Regions from separate parts of the Homo sapiens genome. Here region 1 is linked to region 2. A link means that fine-mapping ties the variant in region 2 to the expression of a gene that starts in the linked region. Tissue or cell type: whole blood. Region 2 holds a variant in brackets; the other region holds the start of a gene. All regions are shown on one strand. Distances are from middle to middle.

What was found. PIP is the estimated chance that this variant, and not a neighbour inherited with it, causes the effect.
Region 1: BID starts here. The variant in region 2 is fine-mapped to the expression of BID in whole blood (INTERVAL, PIP 0.99).

What each region holds. Positions count from the first base shown.
Region 1 is chr22:17,770,010-17,778,156 of GRCh38, forward strand. It overlaps BID (BH3 interacting domain death agonist), which reads right to left and starts at 4,460. Exons shown (of 6, transcript NM_001196.4): 1 at 4,372-4,460. It overlaps LINC00528 (long intergenic non-protein coding RNA 528), which reads left to right and starts at 7,281. Exons shown (of 1, transcript NR_103718.1): 1 at 7,281-8,147. RefSeq lists enhancers at 1,789-1,928, 7,316-7,795 and silencers at 3,969-4,298, 4,329-4,398, 4,419-4,468, 4,489-4,588.
Region 2 is chr22:17,702,274-17,710,452 of GRCh38, forward strand. It overlaps BCL2L13 (BCL2 like 13), which reads left to right. Exons shown (of 7, transcript NM_015367.4): 6 at 1-113. Among named protein-coding and RNA genes, the nearest start is that of MIR3198-1, 58 kb to the right of the region's middle. RefSeq lists enhancers at 4,040-4,089, 4,110-4,159. The variant GA/G (reference allele first, on the strand shown) is at 4,908.

The DNA.
Region 1 (8,147 bases), 68 kb after region 2:
CTGCCTCCCAGGGCCCTTCGTGCCACTGGCCCCTTTCTTTCCACCCCCATATGCTACCCCTGCCTACTCCCTTCCCTGGCCCTGGGTTGCCACTCCTGTCCTGTTCTCCTGCTGTCCCCACCCCAGCCCTGACCCCAGATGGCTCTCCCTACAAAAACACCAGAACCCCAGAGAAGCTCAATCCCCCAAGTCCATCTGCATTTTAAGAAGCCCTCACGCACTCCCAGCCCAGAGAGGGAAGCTGTAAAGGTGGACAGGTCATGTCGGGCTTTGAACCTGCAATGTGATCTCACCTTCCCCGTCTGTAAAAGGGGACACTCCCTGCCTTGTGGGATCACATGCAGTATCAGAAAAAGCACCTGACATGTGACATCCACTTACAAAGGGTTTTCCCTTCTCTTTGGTTTTGGGGGAGAATGGGAGAGGCCCAAGCAGAAGCTCCTGGAACACCGCCCATCCCGGACCCAGGGTTGTAGTCACCTGAACACTCACCCAGACAAGGGAAACTTCACAGAATGAATGTGAGGAATAAAATGAGACATTCAGTTACACAAATTAAACCAAACCCAGATGCAGAGGTGCCCCATAACAGAAATAGAGCAACTACTGCCAGCCTTGGATGAAAGCTCTTGGCCAAGGGCCGTGACGGCGGCGGGGAGGTTCAGCAGCTGTCCCCAAGCACACAGGACATTTGGCACCTCCAAGCCCAGCCTGTCCCACCAGGCCACGGCACACTTTCCTTCCTCTGAAGAAAGGGGGTTTGTTAAGCCAACGAGGAGGGAAGCCAAGGACTGCCCCCGGCGCCAGCATGGCTATGAGCATAGAAGCGGGCTGAGCCACAGGCTGGGGGATCCCATGCAGACCAGGCAAAGCCCAGGCAGGATGCTCTGCAGAAAGTTCCCTGGTGATCCGGACCCGGAGCCAGACTGAGCCGCAGCCCCAGAAGACAGGTATCTCCTCCCCTGGGGCCACAGCAGCCACAGAGGCCACCCACGGCTTCCACTAGGACAGTGTGTCTTTCCAGTTACTCTACGTACCTAAAAGTGACCAGCCCCCTTTCAGGTCTGGTCTATGATCCAGATGGTGATCTTTCCCCCACTTTTTTTTTGAGACGGAGTCTCGCTCTGTCCCCCAGGCTGGAGTGCAGTGGCGCGATCTCGGCTCACTGCAAGCTCCACCTCCCGGGTTCACACCATTCTCCTGCCTCAGCCTCCCAGGTAGCTGGGACTATGGGCGCCCCCCACCACGCACAGCTAATTTTCTGTATTTTTAGTAGAGACGGGGTTTCAACGTCTTAGTCAGGACGGTCTTGATCTCCTGACCTCATGATCCGCCCAACTCGGCCTCCCAAAGTGCTGGGATTACAGGCGTGAGCCACCGCGCCCGGCTGGTCTTTCCCCTTTAAGACCCCACTTCCCACCCCCACCCTGGCCAAGCTGATAGGATTCAAGGAGTGCGGCGGTGCAATCACAGCTCACTATAGCCTTGACCTCCCGGGCTCGAGCAATCCTCCCGTCTCAGCCTCCCAAAGCCACTTCCTCCTTTTCTTAGTTGTTGGCTTCTTCTACAGAAAAGGATCCTGAAAACAAACACCTAAAATGCCAACCAAGAATTCAATCTGCAAGGCAGCAGCACCTCCAGAAATAGCTGCTTTGTGGCCTGTTTGCCATTTATGTGAAACTTCCCCATTTTGGACCAACGCAGGCAGAAAGAGAAAAGGAGGAAGAGGAAGGAAAAGAGGCAGGCTGTGTTGGGGCTGGATGGGGCTGTAGGAACCTGCCAGCAGTGGCTCTTGGGGAAAACCCCACTGCGAGGTTTCTGAACCCCTGCCCCGGAAGCTTCCCCTTTCCCACACACGTCACTCGCTGCCTTGGAATCTGGGCTGCCTCCCTCCCAGGGGCTCACAGGGGAGCGAGGCCACAGAAAGGCTCCTTACCCCCAGTGGCCTAACAGGTGTGACATGTGGAGGGGGAATCTGGGCAGTGTGCCTGATGCTCAGAGCTGAGACCCTGAAGTCCAACTCCCTCGGGTGTGACCTTGGACAAGTTACTTAGCCTCTCCTTGCCTCAGTTACACCATCTGGAGAATGGGGATGCTACCCTCGTCTGACCACCGTGATGTGAGCCAGTCAGCACACATCAAGTGCTCCGTGAGCGTCCGGCACACAGGTGCTTGTCTCTGTCCTGTGCTTCAGCTCCATCAGTGTCTTCTTCAGACCTGTCATTGGCTTGGGGCAAGGATATATGTGGCCGCTGAGGGCGGTCCGCCAGGTATGGCAGCCATGGAGCTGCTAATTAGGCCCTGTGAGTGGGAGGCCCTGTGGGGTGGGCAGGGGCAGACGCCCAGCTGCTCTCGGGGACACTCCAGGCCTGTGCTGCCCTCCACAGCCCCAGCTGGAGAATGGTGACCAGATGTCAACGACAGGAAGCATTTCCAGAGGCCACAGCTCTGCAGGGAGGTCTCTCATGGGCTGACAGCCAGAGCCAGCGCTCCGGGTCCCCTGAAAAAACGGGCACAGTCCTCGGTCACGTCGAGGACCTGCTCAGCCCCTCCACTTGGCACCGGAGAGAGGATGACTCACGGCCCTTCTGCCTGGAAGGCAGGCTCCAGTGTCAAATGTCCATCCGCCTCCATCACCCTCATCCATCCTTGTCAGTCCAGGGGCCTGGGCACTGCTGGGGCTCCTGGGCAGACAGTTCCCCCTTGCAAATGAGTGGGACCCTCAGCTCCTTCGATCAGCATCCTCACGTCAGCCGAGCCTGTGAGCACCCCTAAGCAAGGCCTCTGAGCTGGGCATGCGACACCCCTTCCCACCCAGGCACCCTCCCCCTAGAATCCCCCATACCACCCTGGGGCCATGCCCCGCTTCCCTCTCTGGCAAGCTCCTGCACAACCTTGAGACCACCTGACAGCCACCGTCTATCCTGCCCAACCTCCTCAGAAGCACTAACAGCACCTCGCCCCAGCCACGGCAGGTCTCTGCACCCCTCGTCTCAGTCACCACTCTCACATCTCATGAACAGAGACACGAGCTGCTTCCTCATGCTCCCTGTGCCCGTCCTGGGAGATCCCTGCCTTTAAACCCCAGCCACGAACTGCTGACCCCGCATTTCCTCTTCCCTCCCTGGGCAAGAGGGGCAGAAGGGGCAGGGACGCACACCCTGGGCCGCAGGCAGAGGCTTGGCCAGGGTCGTCCTCCCGGCAGTGCCTCCCTGGAGCTCTGTCTACCTCAACTCCTGATGCCAGAGGATCCCTCTGCGCTCCCCACACCCTTAAGACCCCAGCTCAGGGAATCTGGTCTCGGTCATCACTCCCAGGGGACTGCAGGGCCCCAGGACGGCACACATTCAGGCCCAGGAGAGCTCCCCCCATCTCAAAGCCTCCTGTGGGTGGAGATGGAATGTGGAAAAACCGCATCCTCTGCAGCTCCCCCACAGTGAGAGCGAGGACTGAGGGTGTGGATAAGGCTCCAGGAAGGGGGTGCAAGCCTGAGAAGGTGGAAGAGCTCTGGGTGGGTCCATCTGCTCCTCACCTGCCCCAACCCTGCCTGCAGGTGAAGGCCGGTCCAGCCGCAGAAGGCCCAGCCCCCAGCCCACTTACAGAATCCGCACTGTGCTCCTCCAGCCGGCCCGGCCCCTCGCTGCCCACCGAGCCATCATGACCCCAGCACCGCTGCACATTCGTATTTGTTGAATGAATGAATGAACCCTTGCCAGCCCAGCCACTTGGTGGCTGAGGGCTTCAGAGCTCTCCCAGGGTCCCCTGGGGTCATTCAGCCACTCAACAGTTTCCCAGCAGCAGCAGCGAGGATCCGCACATCATTGCCAGTGCTCTAAGGAGCGGGCGAGCCCCAGTAAGCGGCCGCTCTGACCGCGCTTTGTCAGCCCTGAGCTCCGCTCGGGAGGAGCCGGCAGGTGTCTGCGGTGCTGGAAAGACCACGGTGTGGGCGGGGATTCCGATCCGCCGGCAAGGGTGGCCTGCACCCGGCCAGGCCCGCGGGTTTTCTCCTCTCCGGGGCTGGCCTCGGCCCCTCCCCCTCCCCGCGCCCCGCACCCCTCCCCTGAATCCCCAGGCCACGTGGAGAGGACACAACAAAGCCTTCCCCGCCTCCGAGGCGGACCCGACCCTCAGCACCGACCTGCCGGCCGCGCCGAGGAGGGCGCCCGGGCGGAGGGGAGGCGGGAGAGACCCGGCCCTCAGGTCGCTGCTGAGGCCTGGGGCTCTGACCCCCCGCCTCCCCTCCTCTGGCTCCCACCGCGGTCGGGCCCAGGGCGGGCGGCGGGCCCTGAGCTCCACGCCGGGGCAGGCGGCAGGCAGGGGTCACGGGCTGGGGCTCGGCGCGTACCCCGGGAGGGGCGCGGGTGCACTCACCACCCTCCAGCCGCGGGGGCGCGGGCGCGTCCGGGCCGAGGCAGCGTCTCCCAGGCGCGCGGACACGGTCGACTACCCGCTTCCTCCTTATGGCGCCCCGCGCGCTTCCTCCTTCGGCCCCCCACGCCCGGGCCCGCCCCGGCCCGCCCCGGCCCGCCCCCGGCGGCTTGCGGGGACCCGGGGAGCCCGCGCCGGCGCGGGGCTGTGGAGCGGGGCGGGGAGCCGGCAGCGCAGTGAGAACCAGGCTTTCCACCCTTACCCCTTACGCGACTGTTTCAGACAGTGTCGTCCAACTTTAAGTTGGCCACTTACTCCAGCGCCGCTGGGATAATTCCTAATGATTCTCTGGGAAACATTCAGAATCCCCAGGCTGTTTCTGGAACAGTCTGGGGTGGTCATTCTAGGTCCTCACGGAACCAGGGGTTTGGAAAGTGGGTGAAGCCATGTGGGTTGCAGAGAATCTGGCCCAGCCCCTCACCAGTCCCTGTGCTTGTTGTTTATTCTTTAATTATTTGGATATCAACTCTGATTTAAAACATCAGTTTAACATATAGATAATGCTGGGACTACAGGCGCACACCACACCCAACTAATTTCTTTTTCAGTTTTTAGTGGAGGTGGTGGGGGGGGGGTCTCCACCTCTGGAGGTCTCAGGCTGGTCTCGAACTCCTGGGCTCCAGCGATGCTTCCCACCTCGGCCTCCCAAGGTGCTGGAATGACAGGCCAGTCCATGCATCCCCGGATGCAGCTCTCACCGGCAGTGCTGCTGCAGAGCCCTTTGTGGGCGTCTTCACTTCTCTTGAGTGTGATACCTAGGAGTGGAAATGCGAATCATAGGGCTGGACGAGCTTCATGGTATTAAAAACTGCCTGCTTTCCAAGGTGATGCACACCGTTCGGCACTTCCACCAGCCCTGTTGGAGCGTCCAGTTGCTCTGCGCCCTCGCGTGGGCTCACTCCCTGAGCCCACTGTGGCTCCTCCAGACGCCCTCACTTCTACCCGGGCTCCCTAGACTCTTGCCTCTTTTATAAAAGGTCAGAGGATGTCACTCACGCTTTAACATCCTCTGAATAAAAGCCAAGTTCCTTTCAGTGGCCCGCAGAGTCCCACGCGACCTGCCCTGCTCTAAGCAAATCCTACCCTGTCCCTGTTCCTCCTCGGCAGCCCCATGGCCTCTGGCTTTCACCAGGCCTCACTTCATTTTCCTCCACAGCCAGCATCGCAGCATGACATACCACGGAGTCGTTTGTGTGTGTGTTGCCTACCTCCCCTCTCGGAATGTAGCCTCCACGAGGACAGGGGCTTGTTTCCTGCATGCTCTTCACTCGGGCTGGGCACTCTGGGGGGCTAACAAATGGAAGATCCTGTGAGCAGGGAAACCGTCAGATGGCATTAGGGGCCGGTGCCCTGCAGAAGACGAAAGGGAAACTTCATGGACTGAGGCCAGGTCATCTGCAGGGTGGTGTTCAAATTCATGGTACAATGTCAGCAGGCGCCCAGATGGGAAAAGAGAGGGACGTGCACCTGGGCACAAGAAGCTGCAGGGGCCCCTCCCAGGGCAGGCGAGAGCTTGGACAGTGGGGCACAGTGGGCAAGAGGCCAGTGGGGTGGCCTGAAGGCAGGAGGCTCCAGCAGCCTGGATGAGCAGTTGGATTTTATCCTCAGCACTGTGGGGGCCACTGGCCCTGTCATGCAGGGCAGGACCTGTACCAATTGGCCCCCACAGTCTCTGCCTCTCCTGTTGGCTTTTTGCAGGTCTCTCAAGTGCTTCTTACAGTCAGGGTAGAGCCTCCCCGCCTCAATCCTCCCTGTCCTGATCTGCTGCCTCTATGATGCTTTGGGCTTCAAAATCTGTCTGCAGTATTTGTAAAATGAGAGAGGGTGATGTTTCCTGCAAAACAACCACTTCAAAAAGAAAGGGGGGCGGGGTGCCAGAAAACAATTCAGGGGGTGACGGACTGGGGGGCTATGGAAGGGTCCAGGGAAATTCCGGGGATGATGGGATTCTTCTATACAGGGATTGTGGTGGATGCCACACAATTGTACACTTTTGTGAGAACTCTGCACGAAGAATGGTGAGTTTTACTGTATGTAAAATTATACCTTAATTAACAAATGAAACAATATACACATACATGAGAGAATGATGACTTTATTTTTTTTTTTGAAACAGGATCTAGCTCTGTCACCCATGCTGGAGTGCAGTGGTGTGATCACAGCTCACTGCAGCCTTGACCTCCCAGGCTCGAGTGATCCTCCTGCCTCAGCCTCCCAAGTATCTGGGACTGCAGGCATGCACCGCCACGCCTGGCTAATTTTTTAAAAATTTTTTTTAGACGGAGTCTGGCTGTGTCACCCATGCTGGAGTGCAATGGTGTGATTTCCGCTCACTGCAACTTCTGCCTCCCGGGTTCAAGTGATTCTCCAGCCTCAGCCTCCCAAGTAGCTGGGATTACAGGCACCCACCACCATGATTGGCTGGCTAATTTTTGTATTTTTAGTAGAGACGGGGTTTCACCATATTGGCCAGGCTGTTCTCGAACTCCTGACCTCAGGTGATCTGCCCGCCTCAGACTCCCAGAGTGCTGGGATTACAGGCGTGTGCCACCACACCTGGCCTTTTTTTTTTTTTTTTTTTTTTTTTTTTGGGACAGGGTCTTGCTATGTTCCCCAGGCTGGTCTTGAACTCCTGGGCTCAAGTAATCCTCCCACCTCGGCCTCCCAAAGTGCTGGGGTTACAGGCATGAACCACTGCACCCGACCTGAATGATGTTTTTGGCAATGAAAATGAAACACAAAATCCAGCAAGGTTTGACGGGGAAGGCGAGCTGGCGACCACATAGTCACAGTCGGCCTTTGCTTCCGCTTTATGCTGCAGTTTCTCACTGTCACTTCCTGCCACCGGGCTCGTCTTCCTGTGAAAATTCAGCCCCTCTTCCTCAGTTACCCCTTTGCAACAGAACGAGGCCGGCATTTTCTAAAGCGTCCTTGAGGAGTCCAGTTCCTAAAAGATTATTTCAGAGTCCACTGTTGTGGGCTGACTTGAATGCTCTCAAAATTCGTAAGTTGAAGCCCTGACCCCCAGGACCTCAGAACGTGACTGTGCTTGGACACAGGGACTTTCCAGAGGTGATTAAGGTGAAGTGAGGTCACTGGATGGCCCTCCTCCTATCTGACTGGTGTCCTGATGGGGACGCGGACACCCACACAGGAACGGACCCGGGGAGAACAACACATCGTCTCTGCGCCAGGGAGAGAGGCGTCCGGGGAACCCAGCCGTGCCCACGCATTTATCTCCGCCTTCCGGCTCAGAATTGTGAGGAAACCCGCTTCTGTTGTGCAAGTCCCGGGTCTGTGGTGCTCGGCCATGGCGCCCCCAGAACTGCATCCCCACCTTCTGCTCTGAGCCACCCATCCCCTCTGGAAGGGCTGAGCTTCTCTCCCTTTCCACCTTCTGTTCTGAGCCACCCGTCCCCTCCAGAAGGGCTGAGCTTCTCTCTCTTTCACTGCCTATGCTCTGGGAAACTTTCAGAATCCCCAGGCTGTTTCTGGAATAGTCTGGGATGGTCATTTTCGGTCCTCACAGAACCGGGGGTTTGGAAAGTAGGTGAAGCCATATGGGTTGCAGAGAATCTGGCCCAGCCCCTCACTAGTCCCTGTGCTTGTTAGTTATTCTTTAATTACTTGGATATCAACTCTGATTTAAAACATCAATTTAACATACAGATAATGCTGGGACTGCAGCTTCGCCAGGTGGCCTTCCTCTCCCGGTCTCG
Region 2 (8,179 bases):
TGCTTTTGGAATTGACAAGACGTGGTCAAGAACCTTTGAGCGCACTGCTGCAGTTTGGCGTGACATACCTGGAGGACTATTCGGCAGAGTACATCATTCAGCAAGGTGGCTGGGTATGAGCTGTTATATATTAAAAATATTTTCTTGAAAAAAAATTAGGTTTGTTGTTTTTCTTAAGAGATGGGTTCTTGCTGTGTTACCCGGGCTGGAGTGCAGTGTCTAATTGCTGGCACTATCATGGCAGGCTTCGGTCTCAAACTCCTGGGCTCAAGTGATCCTGCCTCAGGTCCTGAATAGCCAAGAGCACAGGCTGGGACTATAGGTGCCCACCACTGTGCCGTGCTCTATCCCGTACTTTTTGATATGTAATTATTATTATTATTCAGTTGGTTCAGTTGTTTATAAATTTTCCTTATATGTTCTTTGACCCTTGAATTACTTAGAAATGTATTTTTTAATTTCTAAATACTTACAGGTTTAAAAATTTTGTTTTCAATTACTAATTTAATTCTGTTTCATCAGAAAGCACGACCATCGTGGCATTGAAACTTGAGTTATAGCCTACTATCATGATCAATTTAAAAAATATATATATAGGGCTGGGTGCAGTGGTGCACATCTGTAATCCCAGTGCTTTGGGAGGCTGAGGTGGGTGAATCACCTGAGGTCAGGAGTTCAAGACCAGCCTGGTCAACATGACAAAACCCCATCTGTACAAAAAAATACAAAAAATTAACTGGGCTTGGTGGCATGTGCCTGTAATCCCAGCTACTCAGGAGGCCAAGGCAGGAGAATCACTTGAACCCGGGAGGCAGAGGTTGCAGTGAGCCAAGATGGCACCACTGCATTCCAGCCTGGGCAACAGAGCAACAACAACAACAACAACAAAATATATATATACACACACACACACACATATGTATATGTATATACACACATGTATATTTTTATGTATGTTTCAGAACATGTATTCTCTAATGGTTGGTGCAGAAGTCTGTACGTGTCCATTTACATTTAATCAGTCTTAATAATACGTATTTTAAATCTTTCAGTCATTTCCAATTATTTTGTCTAATTATTTACTAAGAGAGACATGTTCTATTTGCTACTATGGTGGTAGATTTTCCATTTTCCCTTTAGTTCTGTCAATTGTAGGTGACTAAAAGTTGTAATTATTGACCCCTGGACATTTATGCGGACTCTCTTTCTTTCTTTGGGCCTAGAAATGGTTTTTAAGTTTATTTGTTGTAATTTGCCCAACAGTCAGTGATTCTGTAGAGAGAGTACTTTTCATAAAGTATACTACTCATTATTGTTTTTTAGCCACTATGCATCTGAGGGTTTGAGTTAATTTTTAAAATATGTAAATTTAATTACTATGGATACTAATATCGAACATCCTAGGTTTACGTGCTTGGTAAATGCTTACTGAATAAAATCCTGAACATTTGTCTTAGGAAAATAAAAATATTTTTTGAGCTGTTCTTAAAAATAAGAATTGCGACAATTTATTGTTATTGTTGTCTTCCTACTTAAGTACTTTTTAAAACCTTTGGCTATTGTAGTGTATGGTTTGTATGATAGCCAGGAGACATCCCAGGTTAACTGCCATTTATCCCATATGGTGCTTTACAACAAGGGAAGAAAAATGCAGGGAATATTATGCACTCCCTTCTCAACTTTCAGTTTTATGATGATGTAGTACATCAAGGTTTGTTTGGTGATTGTAATTGGTTACAGAGAAAGTAAGTATATTACTCAACTCCAGTATCTGTGCCAAAAGAAAAGATCTACTGCATGGATAACTAGTTCATTAATACTTCTTTTTTTTTTGAAACAGTCTTGCTCTGTCATCCTGGCTTGAGTGCAGTGCGCAATTGCAGCCCACTGCAGCCTCCGCCTCCCAGGTTCAAGCTATTCTTGTGCCTCAGCCTCCTGAGTAGCAGAGATTACAGGTGTGTGCCACCATGACCAGCTACTTTTTGTATTTTTAGTAGAGATAGGGCTTCGCCATGTTGGCAGGCTGGTCTCAAACTCCTGGCCTCAAGTGATCCACCCACTTAGGCCTCCCAAAGTGCTGGGATTACAGGCATGAGCCACTGCACCTGGCCTTCATTAATATTTCAAATGTGTTTTATCTCTAAATTTGAATGTCCAATCTGTATTTCACATTGTTCGGTCTAAGCTCTCCATTTGCTTGTGTTTAAAACTAAGATATTAGGCCGGGTGCAGTGGCTTATGCCTATAATCCCAGCACTTTGGGAGGCCAAGGCAGGCGGATCACCTGAGGTCAGGAGTTTGAGACCATCCTGGCCAACATGGTGAGACCTCATCTCTACTAAAAATACAAAAATCATCTGGGTGTGGCTGAAGATGATGTGGAATGAGAAACAAATGTCAACATAATAAAATCTCAGTTAAAGTATTTTAAAAATTCTTAGTTGAGCAGCTCTGGGGGAATAAGGGCAAATATGCTTGTTATGAACTGCACTGAAATCTACCAAAGTTAATGTTTACTTTGTGTAGATCCATTTGTCTATTTTATTTATTTTTCCCAGTGAAAAGTGTGTTTTGATAGAGAACTTTTCATTCTATAAATACACTGTGAGTTACTAAAATATCATGAATTTTGTTTATTCCTGAAACATAGTTAAACTGTACATATGACATGGCTTATGTTAAAAATACCCAGTGCTCAGTTTTGAAAGATAGGCAAAAAAAAAAAAAAGTATAGGAGAAACTGAAGAATGTACACTTTTTTAGGGGGCACATTTTGCTGTAAATCTGGAAATTTGATAGACTTGATTGTGAAAACTGAGCATTAAAGGTTTTGATTGATTAAAAAAAAAATTATCTGGGTGTGGTGGCAGGCACCTGTAACACCAGCTACTTGGGAGGCTAAGGCAGGAGAATTGCTTAAACCAGGGAGGCAGAAGTTTCAGTGAGCTGAGATCGTGCCATTGCACTCCAGCCTGGGCAACAAGAGCGAAACTCTGTATCAAACAAACAAAAACCCAAGATACTGCATTTTTTTTTTTTTTTCAGATGTAGTCTCCCTGTGTCGCCCAGGCTGGAATGCAGTGGCACTATCTTGGCTCACTGCAAGCTCCGCCTCCCAGGTTCACGCCATTCTCCTGCCTCAGCCTCCCAAGTAGCTGGGACTACAGATGGCTGCCACCACACCCGGCTAATTTTTTGTATTTTTAGTAGAGATGGGTTTTCACTGTGTTAGCCAGGATGGTCTCGATCTCCTGACCTCGTGATCCACCCGCCTCAGCCTCCCAAAGTGCTGGGATTGCAGGCGTGAGCCACCGCGCCCGGCCGATATTGCTTTTTTTTTAATGCCAGTTGGTGAAAATGTATCCTGTGACATAAGCTGTCAACATGAATCTCCTTAAGATACTGTGTGCTGAACATTACATTGACAGCTCTTAAAACCCTTCCAGAAGAGAATCATTTGACCACATGATATCGCATGTCTGTTATATAAAGCCTGTGGTATGATTTCCACGGGGAATGTATTTGTCATTAGTCACTTGAACACAACATCAAGTGAAACAAACTGCCTACCTCTCAAGGTGCAGCTACTTTTGAAAACCTGCAGCAGAGGAGGTGGTGCCAGCAGCCATAATCTGTTGGATGAATGGAGTGATATAGCACATAGTCAGTTAGGAACAGGCAGGCTTTGGACATATAGATTTGAAGGAGAAAAATAATATTTTGTTTTCTGAATTATTAACAGAAATGGCTAGGACTTAGAAACAGGGTCTTGCTTTGTTGCCCTGGCTGGAGTACAGTGGCATGATCATGGCTCATTTGCAGCCTCAACTTCCTGGGCTCAAGTGATCCTCCCACCTCAGCCTCCCTAGTAGCTGGGACCACAGGTGTGCATGCACTACCACACTTGGCTTATTTTTTGCAGAGAGAGGTTTCACTATGTTGCCCAAGCTGGTCTCAAACTCCTGGCCTCAAGCAATCCTCCCCGCTTGGCCTCCCAAAGTGCTGGGATTACAGGCATGCGCCACCTTGCCCAGCCTGTTTTCTCTTTCTACCTTGTTTTTTTTTTTTTTTCACTCTGCCTTTTTACCCGGCGAATGATGAACTGAGAAAAGGATTAGAAATCACAAGATTTGTTTCTTGCCCCAGCTCTGCCAAATACTAGCCCTGTGTTTTGGAAGGATTCATTTAACTTCTCTGAACCTCAGTTTCAACTACAAAAAGGGAAGAATAGCTTCTCTGTCTCACAAAAATAATGATGTGAAAGTGTTTTGTGAAAATGTCACACTTTTACAAATGCCAGGTTTTCACATGCGTCTCTGAAGAGTGTGGTTTTTTTCCCTCTCCTTAAGTCTGATCACCATTTCCTCTTAGTTTCAGTTTTGACTTTTATTTGCCCTGCAGCCCGGTGAGGGCACAGACTGGTTCATGTGCTGTGATTCTCCCTGAGTCATCCTTGCTCCCTCCCTCCTCATTCTCTTTTCATTTCCTGGGCTTGTGTTGCTACGTTAGAAGTCTGTCTGTCTCCTGGAAAGGGCAGAGCAAGTCCACTGTGGTAAGGCTTGTATTTTACTTTCTCCGTCGTCACATGATAAATACTTCTTGTGAAAGATTTACTTTTAGATTCCATAAAAGATTACTGGAGGGAATGTCATCTGTCTATTGTAATATTTAAGTATTTTGAATAAAATTAATCTTTGTCATTTTCTCTTGACATGAAGCTTCTGATTTTAGAATAGGTTTTTGTTTGTTTAATCTAGGATATTTAAAGACTATCTCTTGGAAGCTTTTAGGTTAATAATTTGTTAGAATAGTTTTCATATTGTGGGAGGTGACACACAGGGATGATCTGAAATTAATGAAGTGGGTTGCAGCTAAAATCAATTTAGTAAGAGTAAGTACTGTTTTGG[GA/G]AAATCTGCCTGCTGTATATGTGGGTGTGGATGTTTACTGTGTTGTACTCTGAAATGTGTTTTTTGTGGATCTTCCTCATCAAGTTGGGTGGAAAATTACTTCTCTGTAATTTCTTCAGCACTCTCCATTTTCTTATTTTAGGTTAATAATGATCTGAGAGGCGCATTTGGTTATAAGGGTCCAAAGCAGTGATCTGTTTCCATTTTGCGACTTCGAGGCCTCAGAAATATAAAACTAGCTGGTTGATCCCGGCTAGTTTTATATTTTTGAGCCCTCAAAGTTACAAAATGTCAGTGGAGCCTTTGTGTGTTTTGTGTCAGTGGAGCCAAAGAGATGGATACTCCCAACAATACAAATATTTTATATGAAGAATGATTTAGATTGTCAGAATCGTTCTAAGACTACTTGTAGATGTTATTCTAATGTAAGTTGTAACTAACGTATTATCCAAAACAGCTCTTTTTCTTGACAGATATATATATAAAGTCTGAGAAGTAATGATAGAGGTTTGTTGGCATAAATCTTAAGGGAAATGAGTCCTTAGAAAATTTACCAACGTAGATGGGCTTTGGAATTTTGCCAAAGCTTCTTCAGATGGAAAAGTTAAGTTCATAGGAGCTCAGCTCAGCAGCAGCTGTGTCTCAGAAGGTAAAATATTGCTTGAGGGGGCAGAATAATTTGTAACTGATGTGACCCCCTGCCCCCACCAAAAAAAAAGTGAAACAAAAAAATACAATCAATATAGACATCATGATGCAGCCAATTTTTGTAATAGGTCTCTGAGCAATTGTCAACCTGATTTTTACTTAGGTCTACCACCAAAGTAAAGTTATGTTTGTATTTTATTTTACATTTATTTTGATACGTTCCTTTACTTAGTTTTTTACTTAGTTCCTACCACCAAAGCAAAGTTATATTTGTATTTTATTTTACATTTATTTTGTTATATTCCTTTTATCTACTTAGGTTTCTTCTCTACTTCCCTTTTTAATTGAAGAGTTTAATGCATGTATCTGTGTGTTTGCTTGAAAAAAAACACCAAGTATAACATGTTCTATCTATGAATACTTCTGGCCATTAACTCAAAAGGTACTATATTACAGACAGAAAAGCACCAGAAAGCAATCAGGGACTTCATCTAAGAGGTAGGACAGCATAGTTGGTAAAAATACAGACCCTGGAGGCAAACTGCCTGGGCTTGAATCCCAGCTTTATTACTTTGGGAAAACTACTTATCTTCTTTACTTGTTTTGGTATCCATGTCTGTGAAATGGAAGTAATAATAATCCTCTCATAGCATTGTTGTGAGGTTTCAATAGATGAAGTGAAGACTTTAGAAGGGCACATGATAAGAATTATATAAGGGTTACCTATTATTGCTATCCAATTTGTCATAGCAAGCTAAGGGACCTTGGGCAAGTTACTCAAACCCTTTGGCTTCATTTATTTAAAAACAAAAACAAAAAAGACGCAGTTCTCTGCTTCTTTGTGCATATTTAAACTCATGGTTTATCCCATGAGTTTTATATTTTTGAGCCCTCGAAATTACTCCTTTGCATTTTATGTCAGTGAAGCCAAAGAGACAGATACTCTCAACAACACAAATATTTTGTATTAAAAACTATTTAGATTGTTAGAATGGTTCCGAGGCTACTTGTAGATATTATTCTTCTAATATGATAAGTTGTAAGTAATATATTATCCAAAACAGCTCTTTTTCTTTTAGTGAAAGCCTGCTCTTCATTATGACATTAATTATTAAGAGAGGCTCGGCCGAGCATGGTGGCTAACGCCTGTAATACCAGCACTTTGGGAGGCCGAGGTGGGTGACTCACAAGGTCAGGAGATCGAGACCATCCTGACTAACACGGTGAAACCCCGTCTCTACTAAAAAATACAAAAAATTAGCTGGGCGTGGTGGCAGGCACCTGTAGTCCCAGCTACTCGGGAGGCTGAGGCAGGAGAATGGCGTGAACCCAGGAGGCAGAGGTTGCAGTGAGCCAAGACTGCGCCACTGCACTCCAGCCTGGGCGACAGAGTGAGACTCCATCTCAAAAACAAAACAAAACAAAAAAAAGAGGCTCCAGCCCGGTGACATGGCAAAACCCTGTCTCAAAAATATAAAACTGAGGCTGGACGTGGTGGCTCACGCCTGTAATCCCAACACTTTGGGAGGCCAAGGTGGGCAGATCACCTGAAGTCCGGAGTTCGAGACCAGCCTGGCCAACGTGGTGAAACCCCATCTCTATGAAAAATACAAAAATTAGCCAGGCATGGTCGTGCATGCCTGTAGTCCCAGCAACTCGGGAGGCTGAGGCAGGAGAATTGCTTGAACCCAGGAGGCGGAGGTTGCAGTGAACCAGGATTGTGCCTCTGCGCTCCAACCTGGGTGAACAGAGAGAGACTCTGTCTCAGGAAAGATAAATAAATAAATGAAATAAAAAATAGAAAGATTAGCCAGGCATGGTGGTGGGTTCCTGTAATCCCAACTACTCAGGTGGCTGAGGCAGGAGAATCTCTTGAACCCAGGTTGCAGAACCCAGGAGCTGAGATTGTGCTGCTGCACTCCAGCCTAGGCAACAGAGTGCTATTAAAACAAAAGAAAACATTGACCGGGTGCAGTGGCTCACTCCTGTAATCCCAGCACTTTGGGAGGCCGAGGCAGGCAGATTGCCCAAGTCCAGGAGCTCAAGACCAGCCTGGGCAACATGGTGAGTGAGAGCCCATCTCTACAAAAAATATAAAAATTAACTGGAAGTAATCTGTGGTCCCATTTACTCAGGAGGCTGAGGCAGGAGGATCACTTGAGCCTGGGAGGTCAAGGCTGCAGTAAGCCAAGATTGCGCCACTGACCTCCAGCCTGGGTAACAGTAAGACCTTGTCTTAAAAAAAAAAAAAAAAAAAAAAAAAGAGGCTGCTATTTTTATATTTTTGTTTTATGTGAATTGGTCCCCAGGAGTAAAAGCTTAGTAATCTGTTCTTTCTTGTAAGACTTCTTACATAACAGCACAGAATGTTCAGTGAATCTTCATTAAAATGTCACGTCCTAAATACAGAAATACATTGTAAGGTAGGGAGGCCATGACAGCAAGACATAAAGCTATTTAATCTGAATTGGCCGGGTGCAGTGGCTCACACCTGTAATCCCAGCACTTCGGGAGGCCGAGGCAGGCAGATCATTTGAGGTCAGGACTTTGAGACCAGCAACATGGTGAATCCCTGTCTCTACTAAAAATTAAAAAAAAAAATTCTCCGGGCATGGTGGCGCAC